Linked DNA regions of Homo sapiens: region 2 is linked to region 1. The links come from fine-mapping of genetic effects on gene expression. A gene starts in region 1. The other region holds a variant in brackets. All regions are shown on one strand. Distances are between the middles of the regions. Region 1 holds the start of WFS1 (wolframin ER transmembrane glycoprotein). Region 2 overlaps WFS1 (wolframin ER transmembrane glycoprotein).

What was found. PIP is the estimated chance that this variant, and not a neighbour inherited with it, causes the effect.
Region 2: its variant is fine-mapped to the expression of WFS1 in whole blood (TOPMed, PIP 0.93).

Annotation. Positions count from the first base shown.
Region 1 is chr4:6,266,693-6,275,012 of GRCh38, forward strand. It overlaps WFS1 (wolframin ER transmembrane glycoprotein), which reads left to right and starts at 3,158. Exons shown (of 8, transcript NM_006005.3): 1 at 3,158-3,322. RefSeq lists a silencer at 3,136-3,245 and an enhancer at 6,166-6,715.
Region 2 is chr4:6,287,453-6,295,772 of GRCh38, forward strand. WFS1 (wolframin ER transmembrane glycoprotein) reads left to right here. Exons shown (of 8, transcript NM_006005.3): 4 at 1,535-1,679; 5 at 3,745-3,915; 6 at 4,465-4,545; 7 at 7,589-7,737. Among named protein-coding and RNA genes, the nearest start is that of WFS1, 22 kb to the left of the region's middle. The variant A/AC (reference allele first, on the strand shown) is at 4,960.

The DNA.
Region 1 (8,320 bases):
ACTCAGCAGCAACATGCAGAGCTCAGCTCTTGGGGGAATGAGGACAGGTGTCCTAGAAAAGATAGCATTGAACAGCTGGCTCTTTCTCCCACCAGAGTTGTGTTTTAATAAGTTCTAGTATTTCTAGCAGTTACTGCTTTAAGTGTGTGGCTACTAGATTTTCTGGCTCATTCAGATTCATGACAATGAAATCTTTGTGGATTGTGCCTGGCACCCTTACATAATACCACTCTTCCCGTGAATGCTTTCCATCATGCGTTCTTCCTTATCAATAGTAATTTGCCATTTTTCAAATGTCTGCTGTGATCTTCTACTTCTCAATATTTTTGGTGTGTTTCTTGTAAATAGCGCTTAACTGGACTTTAGTTTTTGCCCCAATCTTACAGACTTTGGATGGGAAATTCAGCCCATTCACCGTGTTACGAAGGCGGGTAGCCATGGCTTTATTTATTTTATCTCATCTTATGTTTACTATTATTAAGCTTATTGTTCTTGCTATTATTTACTTTCCCCCTTAATTTTGCTTCCTTACTCTCCCTCCACCCCTCCCCCAACTTCTACCTAGTAATTCAGGAGTTCTACTCTGCTTCTTTCCCGTGAGTTGCTACTTTCCAATTCCTGAGAGTCATAATTCAACCAATCTTTCCCTGATAATGTATTAAAAGTAAATGGTAATGAAGCCCCCTCCCCACCACCAATAAGGCTTTCCTTCCCCAGCTGAGAGTCATAATTAAACCAATCTTTCCCTGCTAATGTATTAAAAGTAAATGGTAATGAAGCACCCCTCCCAACCACCAATAAGGCTTTCCTTCCCCACTCACCAAATCAGATCCTTTTACTTCCTCCTTCTCCCCTCAACCAAATGTGATCTTAAAATATTCTGACTTCTCTGTGATAAGATTCTATTTTTTTTTTTAGTTCCAGGCTAATACAACTTTCTCTTGAAGCATGTAGCTTATGTTTTAAGAATCCTTATGTGGCACTGCTAGTACAAAATCACAGGCACATGTGGATTATCCATACTGTATATTTTGCAAGGGTCATTGCTTAACACCACTTCCTGTTCTGAGCGTTTGCTCTATCTTGAAATCTCTACTGTGATTGAACTGTCTCGGTGACGGGGGAACTCTGAATATCTTCCTCTGAAAGGGGACATCACTGAGGTCCTTTCTCTGTCTTGCCACAGTGGATATTTTCTCTCTTTTGTCCACATAGATGAATCCTGTAGTAGCCATGGTAAGGATCCTTGATCCTATCATCAGAGTCCCTGGACATTGCTCCAAAGTCCCCTAGGAACCACTTCAACTTTTCTCCCCTTAGATGTGACCTGTTCTTTCTGGAACTCTGCAAGACCGTCTCTTTATCCTTGGCATCTGGGATTTCCAGGGACACGTTCTCCTGGCACTTTGCTCACCTCTGTTTCCCCTCCAGCTCTTCCTGGAGTACCTGTCCTTTGTGCAATACACCTCCTGGAACTGTCTTTCCAGTCTCTGCTTTTTGTCCTGATGATTTTCATGTGCTTTTCCTCTACATCATGAAGCATTTACTCCACATTATCTTCCAGTTTGCTCATTTGTCCTCACCTCCACTCTTCTCTTTCTGAATTTGCCTGTTGCTTTTTCAGTCTCTTAGCTCCGTGGAGTATGTTCAGTGTTGCTGTGTTCTGATAGAGGCTCCTTAAGCCATCTTGTAGATTTTTTGTTGCACTTCCTCTCTTCCCTTAGACCTCCACAGGAGGAACTTTTCAATCTGTCCTCTTCTCTCTGCTTAATGAGCCCCTGCAAAGGGTTTGGGAAGTGCTTCAGCCTCTCTGTGATTGTGTGTTCACATTAATATTTATTATTTTCTTAAATGTGCATAAATCTCACAATGTGAACAGTGATCATCTTTGAGTGATTTTTTTTCTCCTTTCTACTTTTAGTAATTCTCCAAATTTTCTACAGTTAGTGTGTGATAAGGTGGAAAGACATCTTCAAGACTTTGGGCAAATAACTATGTCTGAGCCTCAATTTTCACATCAATAAAAAATGGGCTCAGTGCCACCTCCCTCCTTGGGTCACTAGGGGGGCCCTTGAAAGCTGTGAAAGCCCCTAAGCCAACCTGGACAGAGCAGGCGAGGCTGACGGCAGGTGTTCTTCCTTCCTCTGTGAGCCTCACAGGGTCACACGTGAACATTGGGGATCGGGGGTGGGCAGTGGGGGCAGCTGGAGAATCAAATGAGGTGACTGACATGAACTACGCCGCTTTGACAAAAGTCCTCCGAAGTAGTGTGTTCAGAACTCATCTCCAAAGCCATCTGGAATATTTGCTCCCAACATGTTGGTAAGCATTATCTCTGACAGTCACTCCGAGCCCCAGTTTCTGCTGTGATAACTAGGACAGGTAGCTCAGGTTGGTTGTGGGGACCAGAGACAGAGCAGGCAGGGTCTCACGTTCCCCAGGGCCTCTCAAGGATAGACCCTCGCCCTCATCTCCAAACCACGCCTCCCAGACAGGAACCAAACTCCCAGAGTCTCCAAACTGCCTGAGCCTTGCCCACTCCCTGGGCTAACACACACTTTAAAGGAATCCCACAGTCACCGTGTGAAAAGCTTGCTACACTGCATTTGATTCTGGGCACTGAAAGCAGTACTTGGCTGCAGACACTCGTTTCAAACAGGCCCCATTTTTCCATCTCTGCTGCTGTTATTAGGGGAGCCCTTAGACTCTCTTGCAGCGCCGGAATAGGCGCTCAAGACGTGTGTTAATATTGCAACAGCAAATATAATGAATCTGCAGTTGGGGACGCTGAGGCCGGAGTGGTGGATGAAAGGTGGCCGGAGCCTTTTCCACGGGTCCAAACCACCTGTTACAGGAGAAGGCGAGCGGCCTCGCTAAGCAACTGGACGTTCCGCGGGCGGGGCGGGGGCGGGGCCGGGGCCCGAGTCCGCTCGGAAACTTTCGCTGTGGGCGAGCCGGACCCGCCTTCTGGCCCCTCGGGCCCAACCACGCAGGGGGAGTGCCGGGCCGCAGCTAGGCGAGGCGCACCGTGATTGGCGGAGATGTGGAGTGATTGGCGGCTACACCGGCCACTCAGCAGGCCGAGCTGGCGCCGCATCCGGGGGGCCGCGTCTGGAGTGGAGGGAGGCCGAAGGCCCCGCCCCTGCCCCGCCCCCTCGTGCAGAAGGCCGCGCTAGCCGGCTCTTCAGCAGCGAGTGCAGATTGCTCCCCCGCGGCCGCAGATCTCCCGTTTGCGCCGCGTTCAGCTGCTCCCGAACAACTTTTCTGCCGGCCCAGAGGCCCCAGGGCGTCGCAGCGCCGCGTGCGGCCCACTCACGGGCCGGTGAGTACTTCGGCGCTGGGGCAGTGGCGCGGTGGCTGTGGGCAGCGCGCAGGAGGCGGGCAAGAGCCCTGAGGCACTGTCCTCTTCGGGCCTCAGTTTCCCCTTCCGAGCTGATGGGTGGCTGGCCCCAAAGTCCCGACAAGGTCCCCGAAGTTGGAGGGCCGGGGGTCCCGCCCGCTCTGCAACGCGCAAGGCGACCCCTGTTCCGGGCCCGAACGGGTCACCCGGGGGGCGCGCCCCGGTCCCCCGCGCGCTGTCGCCTGGAGCCCCGCCGCGGGCGGGACAGCAGGCCCGAGAGGCGGAGCGGCCGGCGGGCAGGCCCCCTCCCCGCGCCCCGCGCCATCCCCCCCGAGTTGCCCCGTCATGCCCCTCCCCCGCGGTCCCGGGACCCACGGCCGCCCTCGGTGCCCGCCCGGCCGTTGGAACGCGCCTGGGCCCCCGGGAGGTGTTGTGGGGGGGAAGGGGGGTTCAGTCCCCCAGGGGGACCCGGCCCGCCCGAGGGGCAGCTTAGGGGTCATTCTGAATCCCCACAGCCCACTTAGGAGCGCTGTGGCAGTTCCTCTCTCTCTCGGGGCCCCTCAGTAGAGAGTTGAGGGGTTTCAGTGGCAGCACCTGGACCCTGCCTCGTATGAACTCCACCCTCTGGATCATTAGCTTTTTGTTTGATCAACGAAAACTTTCTGGAGAATCCTACCCAGCCCTTTTGGATGTGATGGCGCCCTGGCCTCTCACCCACTTAGCAGATGATGTTATGAATTCCAAGGAAGTCGCATTTGTGCAACCCCCCACCACCCAGATTTAACCCTCTCAGTAGCCTTAGGCGGAGAAGTTATAGTCCCCGTTTGACACCCCAGGAAGCTGAGGCTCAGCAGGGTTTGGTGCCAGCCCAGGACCACGAAGCTGATGGGGCAGAGCCTGGTGTGAGGCCTCTGCCCTATCTCTCCAGAAGCAGCCCCGTCTCTCCTCACCTTGGACAGTGACCCCTGGCATTTGGCCCAGGGCTTTGCAGTTTGTAAAGGGCTTTCTCTTATGCCAGCATCCATCACTCAAGGAGCTGTGCCCTGGGTACCCCATGTGCTGGCTGCCTGTTCTCTGCAGCAGGAGAGGGAGCCCACGGGAAGCCCAGAGGCCACCTTTGTCACTGTCGCCACCTGTTTACTTCTGTGTCCAAGGGTCTGTGATTCCCATGGGGTCTCCGTTGTATCCAACCAGGGATTTGGAGGGAGGCTTCTCCACATTTCAGCCTCTTTTCCCTACCTGCTGGTTTGTCCTCCCTTCGCAGACACAGGAAAAGTTGGCTGGGAGACCCCATCTCACCTTCTTTCCCAGGATGGAAGAGCATGGAGGGCGTCTCTGACTTAGGCCTCCCCTGCCCATCCCGGACCAGTGCTGGACAGGCTTCTGGGGCTGGTCACAGAGGGGACCTCAGCTCAGTCTCAACCCCCAGAGATGTCTGCACTGCCAGACAGACCCGAAACACCCATCCTTGACGGTGGCAATAAGAATCATAATAGGTCGGGAGCTTTATGCCTACACGGCTCCCCTCCCCTCCCACTTCCCTACTTCCGGAAGTGGTACCACCACAGCCAGCCAGCCCCAGCCACAAACCAGACCACCCCCTGTGCCCTTCATTCCTCACTCCCAGTTGGGTCTCTCCTGGCTCCTGAGCCTCACTCGGATGCCTGCCCTGGTTCAGGACCCTCGCCTCTCCCTGGACGACCCCCAGGCTCCTCCCTGGTCCCGATCCGGGCCTGGCTGCACGCAGCCCTGCTGGTTCTTCAGCTGCCACTTCCCTCTGGGCTATCGGGTCAGGTCCGCCTCCCGAGCCAGGAGCCGGCATTCTTTCGGGCCCTCAGGGACCCGCCTCGCTGCTCACTCAGCCTCTCCCTCCTGTGTCCTCTCTCCAGCAGTCACCTCCCAGCCACCTGCGTGTTCCTGGCCACAAGCCTGGCTCACTGTCCCTCTGCTGCCTCCTCTTCTGGGCACAACCCCTGCTGGAATGCCCAGCCACCTCCCAGCTTGCCTGGCTCCTGCCTGCTTGTCCAGAAGGCTCAGTCAAGTCCTCCTGCAGGATTTCTGGCCTGCCTCTTCCCACAGTGGAGTGAGGGCCCCCTTCTGTGCCGTCTTTGTGGGTGTCTGTTTAGGTGTTAACCCTTCCCATCTAGATGAAGCTGCTCCAATGCTGGCCCTGGACAAGACTTCTCTAGGGCAGGGGGGCCCAGCACAGTGCTTGGCACAAGATGGACCTACCCTCAGTCCACACCTGCTGCCCATCCAGGCCAGGCCTGGAGCAGGTGCCAGGTGTGTGGTGGGGGCTTGGCCACTATGGCCGTCATGAATGCTGCTTGGGGCAGTCCCAATTCAAACCCCTCTGTTCCTGTGAATGTGCCACATTGGATAGAGCTGGAATGTTCCTTGGTTTGTCCCTTAATACTCTGAGCAAAAATAGGTACCTGGGATCCATCAAGGGCTTTGTGCCCTTGTCTTGAGGAGCAGCCCTGTGCCAGGGGGCTGGGTCAGGCCAGGCCAGAGCAGACATCCCAGGGCCAGGACCTCCTGGGCCTGCTCCCTTAGAGCTTGCTCACAGATGGGTTTTAAAATAACATTTGCTTTAATTTCAAAAACATCACACATTCATTATAGAAAACTAGGGAAATATGTTTAAAAGAAGAATAAAATGAAACCGCGCATAAGCTTTATCCCCAGAGACAACAAGTATCTTTTTTAGGGGGCGTTTTCTTCCGTTTTTTGGCAGATAAATTTTGTTTTCATCCTAAACAGACTCCGGCTAATATCTTCTGCTGCTTTAAATCCTGCCTTAACAGTGTTAGGCCCACCTTTTCCTTGTCTCAAAACGTTCATGTACGAGGTCACGTTTACCAGCTGTACAGCGTTGCACCATATGGAGGGGTGTAGGCTTTATAGCCAGCCCCTTTCTGGACAGTGCTGAAAGTGCCATATGATGGACATTGTGTGTGAGCCCCGAGGGCATCTCCAGTGACTCCCCTGGACTGGCATCCTGGAGGCAGAGGCACTGATCAGAGAGAGTGAACATCATCTTGGCTTCCCACAGGGGCTGTTTCTGAGGCACTGGCTTGGGAGATGGGGTTGCCCCCCCAGAGAGAACAGAATGGGGGTGGCCTGGGTGAGGGCCAGAGCCCTTAGGGCAGAAGGCCACGTGTGGTCATTCTGCTGCGGGTCTGAGTGGATGCATGGTGCCTGCAGCCCTCTCCAGGTGGCGGCCTCTCAGCTGAACTCCTTGGTGCCGGTGTTTGTGTTTGGACGGGATAAAAATATGCCTCATTGCTCATGAGGAAAGAATGCTAGCAACTTTGGTTTTGTGGATCTTACACAGTGACGGCTTCTAAGCCATTGCTGTGGTCACCAGTAGGGAGTTGGGGCTGAGTGCCCCACCGTGCAGGTGGGGATCTGAGGGTGCAGAGTGGATGCAGCTGGAGATGCCTGGATGCTGGGGTCTGGGGGAGGGACTTGCTAAGGTCCCACAGCATTATTGCCTGGATGGTGCTCCTGCCCTAGGCCAGGCTGCCTCAGGCTTCTGCCCACATGCATTAAGTGCTTAACGTATTCCTGGCAAGGCAGCCGGTCTTCCGAGTGGATAAGCTGCAGCCCTGCCCTCAGGGCTCACAGTGGCTGTAACATGCAGGAAGACTCAGAGAGGGAAGGACCAGACAGCAGGTCCTTCCACCGGGAGATCTTTTCTGATCTTCATTGTCCCTGTGACCAACCATGACCAGGAATTGTTGTGCTTGTTTTGAAATAACAAGCCCTTTGATCCAAACCAGACTTGGCCAACCCCCAGGGAACCTGAAAATTAATCCTCCTGTATTCATCCATTCTTACTAACCAGAGATTTTACTTTAAACAGTTTTTTTTTAACTGCAGTGTGACATACATGGTACATAGGCCAGCTAGAATCTGTTTTCCTGAAATTCCTTTTATGAAGTGTTTTCCAACTGAACATGCCTTTGTTTAGCACCTGGGAGTAATGGCTTAGGGTTTTTCTTTTCCTTTTTCTTTTTTCTTTTTTTTGAGACGGAGTCTCGCTTTGTCACCCAGGCTGGAGTGCAGTGGCGCGATCTCGGCTCACTGCAAGCTCCATCTCCTGGGTTCACACCATTCTCCTGCCTCAGCCTCCCCAGTAGTTGGGACTATCGGCGCCCGCCACCACGCCTGGCTAATTTTTTTGTATTTTTAATAGAGACGGGGTTTCACTGTGTTAGCCAGGATGGTCTTGATCTCCTGACCTTGTGATCTGCCCGCCTCGGCCTCCCAAAGTGCTGGGATTACAGGCGTGAGCCACCGCGCCTGGCCGGCTTAGTTTTTTTTTAATGCCCAATAGTTTGCTTTCTCTTCTGCCACACACGTAATCCCCATAGCACCCCTATGTGGGAGGTGCTATCCCCATTTTACATATGGGGAAACAGACACAGTGAGGTCATGTGGCCACTAGTAAGGGTAACCGACGCCCCACACCATGTTGCTTCCAGCTGTAACCTCTAGCAGAGGGAGGGCTCTGATGGAGAGGTGATCGCCTGAGTGCTGTGTGTTTACCTGAGTAGGTGAGGAAGACAGGGACTCGGGACAGACATAGCTTGGAAGCTCCCACAAAGGAGGTATCGCTGGAGCTCTTGACTTGAAGGGTGCTTAGGGTCTAGGCTGGGGGAGGGGGGTAAGAAGGCATTCCGGGAAGAGGGCCCTGCAGAAACAGAAGTGTGGAGGTCAGCATTTGTATGCTGATGTTGAAGGGTAGCCAGTGTTTTGCAGTGAATGGGCCCCGGGAGAGAGGGTGCAGTGGCATGGCGGTCTGATTTCAAAGTCGTCTTTTTCAGAAATGAGCTTGCAGAAGCATTAGAATTGGGCAGGTCTGGATTTGAATTTCAGGTCTGGTACCTGGAGCTGTTTGACCTTGAGCAGGTCCCTCCCCTCCCTGCACCTGGGTTCCTGTCTGTGAAGTGGGGTGAGGTTGAAGGATAAAAC
Region 2 (8,320 bases), 21 kb after region 1:
GCTTCCTGCAGCTGCCTGCTCAGTGCCACCCCTCAACATACACTGTGTATGCTGCCCACTCTTGTCTCCCTGACTGGCCTTTCACCTGGCTGTTAGCTGTGTGCACGGGGCCCTCAGAGCGGTGACCATTCACTTGGGCATCAGCCAAGGGCTGGGCTTTGTGCCAGTGCTGGGGACATGATGTGGCCCTCTCTTCATGGGTGACAGGTTAGTGGAAGAAGCAGACCCAAAAAACCCAAGTAGACAAGACACAGAAATACAGTGATTTTGAATTCTGGTGAGGGGAGAAGCCAGCAGAACGCTGAGACGGGAGGTGGCAGGGGGTCCTGTGTCCTCTGTGGAGGCAAGTTCTCACCACCTCACTCTGTCCCCTTGCACAGGGCTCAAGCAAGTGACCACAGTTATCCTGAGCAGTTTCCTGCCCCCTCTTCTCCCTAAAGAGGAGAAAAGCTTCCACGCGAAACCATAAATTAAGAATTTCTGGCTGGGAGCGGTGGCTCACGCCTGTAATCCCAGCACTTTGGGAGGCTGAGGCGGGTGGATCACCTGAGGTCAGGAGTTCGTGACCAGCCTGGCCAACATGATGAAACCGTGTCTCCACTACAAATAGAAAAATTAGCCAGACATGGTGGTGCATGCCTGTAATCCCAGCTACTTGGGAGGCTGAGACAGGAAAATCACTTGAACCCAGGAAGTGGAGGTTGCAGTGAGCCGAGATCGCACCACCACGCTCCCAACTGAGCAACAGAGCAAGACTCTGTCTCAAAAAAAAAAAAAAAAAAATTTCTTTCCTGACCTCACAGCCATATTGTACTTTAAAGTTCCTCCCACATCCTTTTGCCCAGGCATTTGGAGGCGGGGGGAGCATAGTAAGCCCTTTTATGGGCTCTCTGTGCCCTGGGCCTCACTTTTTCCATCTGTAGAATGAGAAGACTGGACCATTTCAGCAGGGATTCTTTTTGCAAAGGGCCAGATAGTGAATATTCTGGACTCTGCGCAATCTCTGCCGTGTTGCTCAGCTTTGCTGTGGAGCACGTAAAAGCAGCATGGACAACATGTAAATGAATGGTTATGGTTGTATTTCAATAAAACTTTATTTGCAAAAACAGGCAGTGGGCCAGTGCTAACCCTTGGTTAGCTGGCGTCTCTCCAGCCCTGGCTTTCTATGGTCCCCTGACTGTTTTGAGAGGTGTAAAGGACCCAGTCATGGTTCTGATTTCCATGCATTGATGGTGAGCCTTGGCAGGCAGGAGCAACTCAAGGAAGAGAACCTGTACCAGTACCAGTCGGAGCCCGTGTCTCCCTCGCCGTGTGGATGGGGTGGCCACACCTTCCTCACCGTGTTTTGAGGAGCGAGTGGCCGGAGGCTCAGTAGGGCCTAGCCTAGTGGACATGCCTGGTGTGACCCCATTTCTGCCCCTTCCTTCCTGGCCTGGGTGACAAAGGGAAGTGGGTGAAAGGAGGTGGGCTGGCAGGGAGCATGGGGTGGGAGAGGGTCGGAGAATCTGGAGGCTGACTGGTGTCTGGCTTGCAGGTGGGGAAGCACTACCTGCAGTTGGCCGGCGACACGGATGAAGAACTCAACAGCTGCACCGCTGTGGACTGGCTGGTCCTCGCCGCGAAGCAGGGCCGTCGCGAGGCTGTGAAGCTGCTTCGCCGGTGCTTGGCGGACAGAAGAGGTGGGTCTGTGTGAGGCTTAGAACAGCCTCTGGAGGGTTGAGCAGCTTGTAATGCTGCTTGCTAACTGAACAACTAAAATCTTACCAAACCTAACGCTGGTGATGCTGTTGGGAAATTTCAGTTTCTGTTTTGCTGGTGGCCTTCTCATTTTAGACACTGTTTCTGGACTTAACATGGGATATTTAACAGACCAAGCCATTTTCATTCTCTTTGGCTTGTGTTGGTATCTCCAAGTGGTAACTATACATCCTGCTTCCCTGCTGGGTTCTGATCCAAACTGAGACATCGATCCTGGGTTCAGCTGAGAGGCAGTTTCCCTGAGGCAAAGCTGGAGACTGTAATGTGGCCTGCAGTCAGAGTGGCCCATGCCCCTGAGCTGATGTCCGTCGAGTCTGGGCAGACCAGCTGAGGGGCTGTGGGCCCACACAGACCTGGACAAGCATGTTCACTTTGGGAGGAGGCAGGCTGACCCTTCATAGATAATCTCTTTCAAACAGAGAGGCAGGGGAGGAAAGGGACGCAGCTCAGGCCAGGGGTGGTGAGTTAGGACGTTGTCCTGCGCAAGGGAAGTGGCTGTCCCTGGTGCCGTGGGGCAGTGTGCTTCCTGAAGGTTCCACGCCTCAGGGAAAGATGAAAGTGGGTGTCACAAAGGTGTTTTTTCTAATGATACCTTTTTTTTCAGATTGTAAGAGTATTTTATGCTTATCATAGAAAACTTGGACTATGTAGAAAACATAAAGATACAAATTACTCATAACCTTGAAGCCCAGAAGCAACTCCCCATATTTTGGTGTATTTCCTTCTGTGTTTGTTGTTGTTGTTTTGAGATGGAGTCTCACTCTGTCGCCCAGGCTAGAGTGCAGGGGTGCGATCTCAAGTCACTGTAACCTCCACCTCCCTGGTTCAAGCAATTCTCCTGCCTCAGCCTTTTGAGTAGCTGAGATTACAGGCGTGCATTACCACACCTAGCTAATTTTTGTATTTTTAGCAGAGACAGGGTTTCATCAGGTTGGCCAGGCTGGTCACAAACTCCTGACCTCAGGGGATCCACCCTCCTTGGCCTCCCAAAGTGATGAGAGTACAGGCGTGAGCCACCATGCCCAGCTTGTATCATATTTTAAGAGTTACATTTATTATACAGAGTCTTCTCTTTGAAAATTAAACTGATGATTTTGAAAAACTAACAGTGGCATTGTTAGCCAGAATTTCTCACCAACCCAGCCTGCTGATTCCAGAGCAGTTGGAATGACCTGGAGGGGGCTCAGGCGGCCCACACGGCTCATTGTTGGGTGCCAGGGATAGCCCAGAGGCTGCTGGGGCAGAGCGTGCAAGGGAGGAGGCCGGTTGGCCCCGTGTTCCCCCAGCTGCACACACCTTCTGATGTGCAGTTGTGCTTTCTGATTTGAAAAGAAATACATGCTCATGTGGAAAATTTTGGAAATGTTCAAAAGGAGAAAAACATCCAGACCCCCGTGCCAGTCCTCCTGCCCTCTGCTTGGTTGTGCCAGTGTCCCAGGCCGTTGGGGGTAAAGGGAGGAAGGCAGCTGCTGACCAGCGGTAAAACCTGCTCTCCCTCTCCCCGCTGTCCAAGCCTTCCTTAGAAAGGGCTGGGCTGTGTGTGAGACAGAGGAAAGCTCTGTAGACACAGGGGTGGCCCTGCCAGTGCACCCAGGCTGGTGACTGCAGTGAGTCCACCCTGGGTTCAAGACAGCTCTGCCTCTTTCTGACTGTGTGACCTTGAGTGAGCCAGAACACAGGCCTGTGCCTCCGGGTCTGCACCTCTGAGAGAGGGGAGGAACAGGAAGAGGCTGCCTTCTTCCCGCCAGCATGTAGGGGGCACTTGGGGGCGTCTGGTGGGAGACCAGTCTGGCCTCCCAGCTGGAGAGTGGGCGTGGCGCGATGTCCTCTTGAGTCAGATGTCCATGCATCCTTCCCTGGTAACCAAGTCCTGACACCTTCTATGAGTCTCGCTCGAAAGCCTTCCAGGCAGAGTTGGCAGGGTCAGAGTGGCACCGAAAGCCTAGGCAGGGCACACAAGGCCTTTGACCACATCCTATCCCTCAGGCATCACGTCCGAGAACGAACGGGAGGTGAGGCAGCTCTCCTCCGAGACCGACCTGGAGAGGGCCGTGCGCAAGGCAGCCCTGGTCATGTACTGGAAGCTCAACCCCAAGAAGAAGAAGCAGGTGGCCGTGGCGGAGCTGCTGGAGAATGTCGGCCAGGTCAACGAGCACGGTGCGAGGATTCACCCTGGGCACCAGCCTTCCCTGGGCGCCAGCCTTCCCACAGGAGCCAGGACCTTCCCATAGGGGCTGGGACCTTCCCTCAGGGGCTGGGTCTTCCCACAGGAGCCGGGACCTTCCCTGTGAGGACAGGGCCCTTCCTTGTGGGGACCAGGGGACCAGAACCTTCCTGTAGAGACCGTGCCCTAGTGGTGAGGTGTGTGGGTGGCATTTTGACAGCATCTGCCCTGGCTCAAGTGCTCACTCATTGAATAAACCAGAGGGTATTCTGCCCAGTGCTCTGTGACCACGTCTACCAATGGGACGGACTGTGTCCATCACCAAGTGGGAGCACGCTACGTGGTGCTGAGTCCACCCCAGCTACTGGAGGTACAGAGGTGTGGCCCCTGCTCTGCCTGCCCTGGGGGCCCTATGATCCCCAGAACGTAGGATGCCCCTGGAACTGGCGTGCCCTAGGAACAGTGCGCCAGTTTCTGGTGGGCTGCAGGGCACGAGGAGATAGTCAACTTGTCTGACTGTTAATCCACCCTGTCCCCTGCAGATGGAGGGGCGCAGCCAGGCCCCGTGCCCAAGTCCCTGCAGAAGCAGAGGCGCATGCTGGAGCGCCTGGTCAGCAGCGAGTGTGAGTGCAGCCCCTGCCCCGTCTCACCCATGCCTCCCAGCCTGCACCTGCAGGGCGACCTCTCCTTCCTGTGCGACTCCATCCTGGCCTGCCCTATCTCACCCGTGCCTCCCAGCCTGCGCCTGCAGGGCGACCTCTCCTTCCTGTGCGACCCCATCCTGGCCCTGCTAGGATCTCAGGCGGTCCGTTTGGGGCTCAGTGTTCTGGACGCTGGGAGTAGACCCTGCCCACCTGGAGCGCACGCACTGGAGGGAAGGCAGACCCAGGACAGAAACCATGATGTGCCAGTCCCTCTTGGACAAGGAAATACTGGGGGTGGGGACTGGCGGGGGGGTCCTGAGTGGGGAAGGATGAGGAGGGCATTAGGGGAAGGGGCTCCGGGCAGAGGGAACAGCATGAGCAAAGGCCCAGGAG[A/AC]CCCAGCAGGGTGTGGAAGGGGCTCTGCCCCAGCGTAGGCCCTTTGTAGGTAGGCAGGGAACAGAGTGGGCAGAGCCTAGGTTGGGGGATAGAGTCTCTGGGGCACACTGAGCTGGGGGTGCCTCTGGGATGTTTGTGGTCAAAGACTGAGAAGAGACGTCACATCCTCCACGTGCAGCTGGCCAGCCTCACTGTCTTCCATCCACGTGGGGTAGACTCTGCAGTCTGAGGCACTGGGAGCTCCTGTCCTGGAGAAGATAGACAGGCAGGAGGCTTGGGGGCTCAGTATCAATGGGGGGATGGGCCAAGACCCAGGTCTGCCACAGACTCTTCTTGTGACATGGGCAGGTCTCATTTTTCTTTCTGGGTGTCAGTTTCCCCTTCTGAACAGTGAGATGATCAGACAAGGGGACTGAAGGACCTCGCCCATCCTAGAAGCCTCTGTGGCATGTAGGGCAGAGTACAGGTGGGAGCACAGATCCCACCTTCCCACTGGGCCCGTGAGGAAACCGTCCATAGGGTGTGGTCAGAGCCCTCGCCTCTGCGTGGGCGGACATGGGTGCTTGCGCTGCTGTTTTCCTGCTCCATTTGGGGGAGACAAAGAAACACCTCACATGGAAGTGGGAAGAAATCTGTGACTCTAGGAAGCCCGAGGACCAGAGAGGCTGTGACAGTGTCCTGCCACCGAGGTGGCATGGTGCCTGCTGTCCTGAAGTGAGGTGCCTCTGGGCAGGAGCAGCCCAGCCTGGGTCTCCATCCTGGGGGGCACTGCAGGCAGAGTCTGGACCCCAACCTCACTTCCCAGTCCCACAGGGGTTTGTGATGAGCCGGGCACACCTGCTGCTGGGCCCTGTCGCTGTTGCTGGGGGCGAGTTAGGAGTCAGCGCTGCCAGCCTGTGGTCCCCTCCGCCAGGCCCTCAGGGACAGGGCCCCAGCACCCCCATTGTTTCCCCTCTATCAGAACGTTCCCATCAGGCATCATCTGTTTCTCTGCCAGCTTTTCCAACAGAACTCCCAGAAAGGGGCGTCTGTCATCCCCTTCTCTCGTCCTCCGTCCTTTGCTCTCAGGCCTCTGCCATGTTATTCCACCAAAGCGGCTCGTCTAGGCCATCAGTGACCCCCCTTGCTCAGTCACTTCTTGTCCTTGTCTGACTTGATCTGTCAGCAGCGTGGGCAGAGATGACTGCTCTTCTCCTTAGAGCCCTCTCCCCCACCAGGCCCGGGGCCCTTGCTGCCACACTGGCTGCTCCTTCTTGGGGTCCCTAGACTGATGTCCTGTCTCTCAGGACAGGACATCCTGCCCAAGGTATTCATCCCTATGAGGACAGGGGCCTTCCTTGTGGGGACCAGGGTCTTCCCGTAGGGACTGTGCTCTGGTAGGGAGATGTGTGGGTGGCATTGGTGACCACTCTCGTGTGTCAGACGCCGTCCTGAACCCGCAAGCCCCCAGCCCGCCCAGGCTGCATCCAGCCCGTGCTCCTTCCACATCTCCTGTACCTGGCTGTCCCATGGTCACCTCACAGCTCAGTCTACAGTGAGCTACTGAGGCCTGTGCTACCTGCCACTTGTGTGGGCCCCCCCAAGGCTGCCTCATCTCTTTGCTGCAGCTACACCTGGGTGCTGCCCCGACTCCTCTCCTCTTGCACACACAGCTGATCCATTAGGAGGTCTGTCAGCGCCCACTATCACGGCTGCCATCTTGGATGCAGCCTGCCTCCTCCCTAGGGTTTCTGCAGCACCCTGGCTTGTCTCCCTCTGCCCTGCCCCAGCATGGTCCTTTCTTTCCCATCCTTCCCCTGGAGGCCCTCCTGGTCACCATCTCACCACGGCAACTGGGGTCCTTCAGGGGCCTCATTCCCTCCTAGGGGATCATGTTGGATAGAGGGGTCAGTGGGCACGTAGCTCTCGCGGATCACGTTGGATGGAGGGATCAGTGGGCACGTAGCAGGCTCTTGGTGGAAGATGTTGGATGGAGGGGTAAGTCGGCCCATGGCAGGACGCATGTTGAATGGACGGGTTAGCAGGCATGTAGTAGGCCCATGGCAGACACTTGTTGGATGGAGGTGTCAGCAGGCACATAGTAGGTGTGTGGCAGATCATGTTGGATGGAGCGGTTTAGCAGGTGCACAGTAGGCCCTGGGTGGATCACGTTGAATGGAGGGGTTGGGGGCGCAGATCATGTTCGATGGAGCGGTTGGCAGGGTACTGCCCTACAGGGCGGCTTGTCACCCGTGCTGTGAGAAGCCCCACGCTGGCTGAAGAGGAGGGTGTCAGCATGCACTGGAGGTGCATGTTGTAAGGCTTGGCAGGTGAACTGGGTGAAAGGTGTGGGTGAGTGGCCCCAGGCATAAGGAGCTAGGCAGAGAGGGACACTTGGGGTGGGGGACAGCACACCCAGGGGCCGGGGGCCAGGAGTGGAGGCTGGCACTTGGCAAACCTGCCCCCTTCCTCCTCACCCAGCCTGGTCCTCAACCCTCAGGCCGCCCAGGGAAGGGTTTCCTCCACCTGAACCCACTCAGCTCCTTTCTTAGCTTGGCCCCACGCCACCGTCCCCAGCCCATTGCTCTGTGTGAGGGTGGCAGTGGGGCTGCAGTGTGGGGCGCCCATGCTGTTTTCTCTCATGCTTCAGCCAAGAACTACATCGCGCTGGATGACTTTGTGGAGATCACTAAGAAGTACGCCAAGGGCGTCATCCCCAGCAGCCTGTTCCTGCAGGACGACGAAGATGATGACGAGCTGGCGGGGAAGAGCCCTGAGGACCTGCCACTGCGTCTGAAGGTGAGTGACCAAGACCCCGGTCAGGCCGGAGCCTGCCTCCCAAGGACTCGCGCACCTCAGGCAGGGCACCTTCCAGGAAGCTGCAGGTGGGGAGGTTCGCGCCTAACAAAGAGTGTCTTACAGCCGTGCCGCTGGTACCTTTGGGTCATCATCTATCGTCATAAGGATGTGTCCTCGGGAGAGAGGCCTTTCTTTTCTGCGCCGTCAGGCTCAGAAACCAGGGGCGGTGTTGGGCAGGAGTGCTAGGATGGCAAGCAAGGGGCCCCTGGGTCTTTCTGTGCAGTGTAGGGGGCAGTGGGGCGGGCTGGACGCAGACTTTCATCTAGACTTCATCACTTAGCAGATTTCTCCATGTATGGTCCAGAGTGGAGGCCAGTGCCTTGAAGATGCCTTCCCCGAAAACAAAGTGCCGTGTCCGTCAGGCCAGGGAGGACGTGCAGAGGCGCCTACTGCCCCTGGATCTGCAAGGGCTCAGGGAGCGAGGCCAGTGTGGGAGCGTGGTGGGTGACACTTGTGCAGGGTGCCATTGGGCACACCTGGAGGACATGAGCAGCTTTGGCGGCAGGAGGAAAGCGGGGAGCGG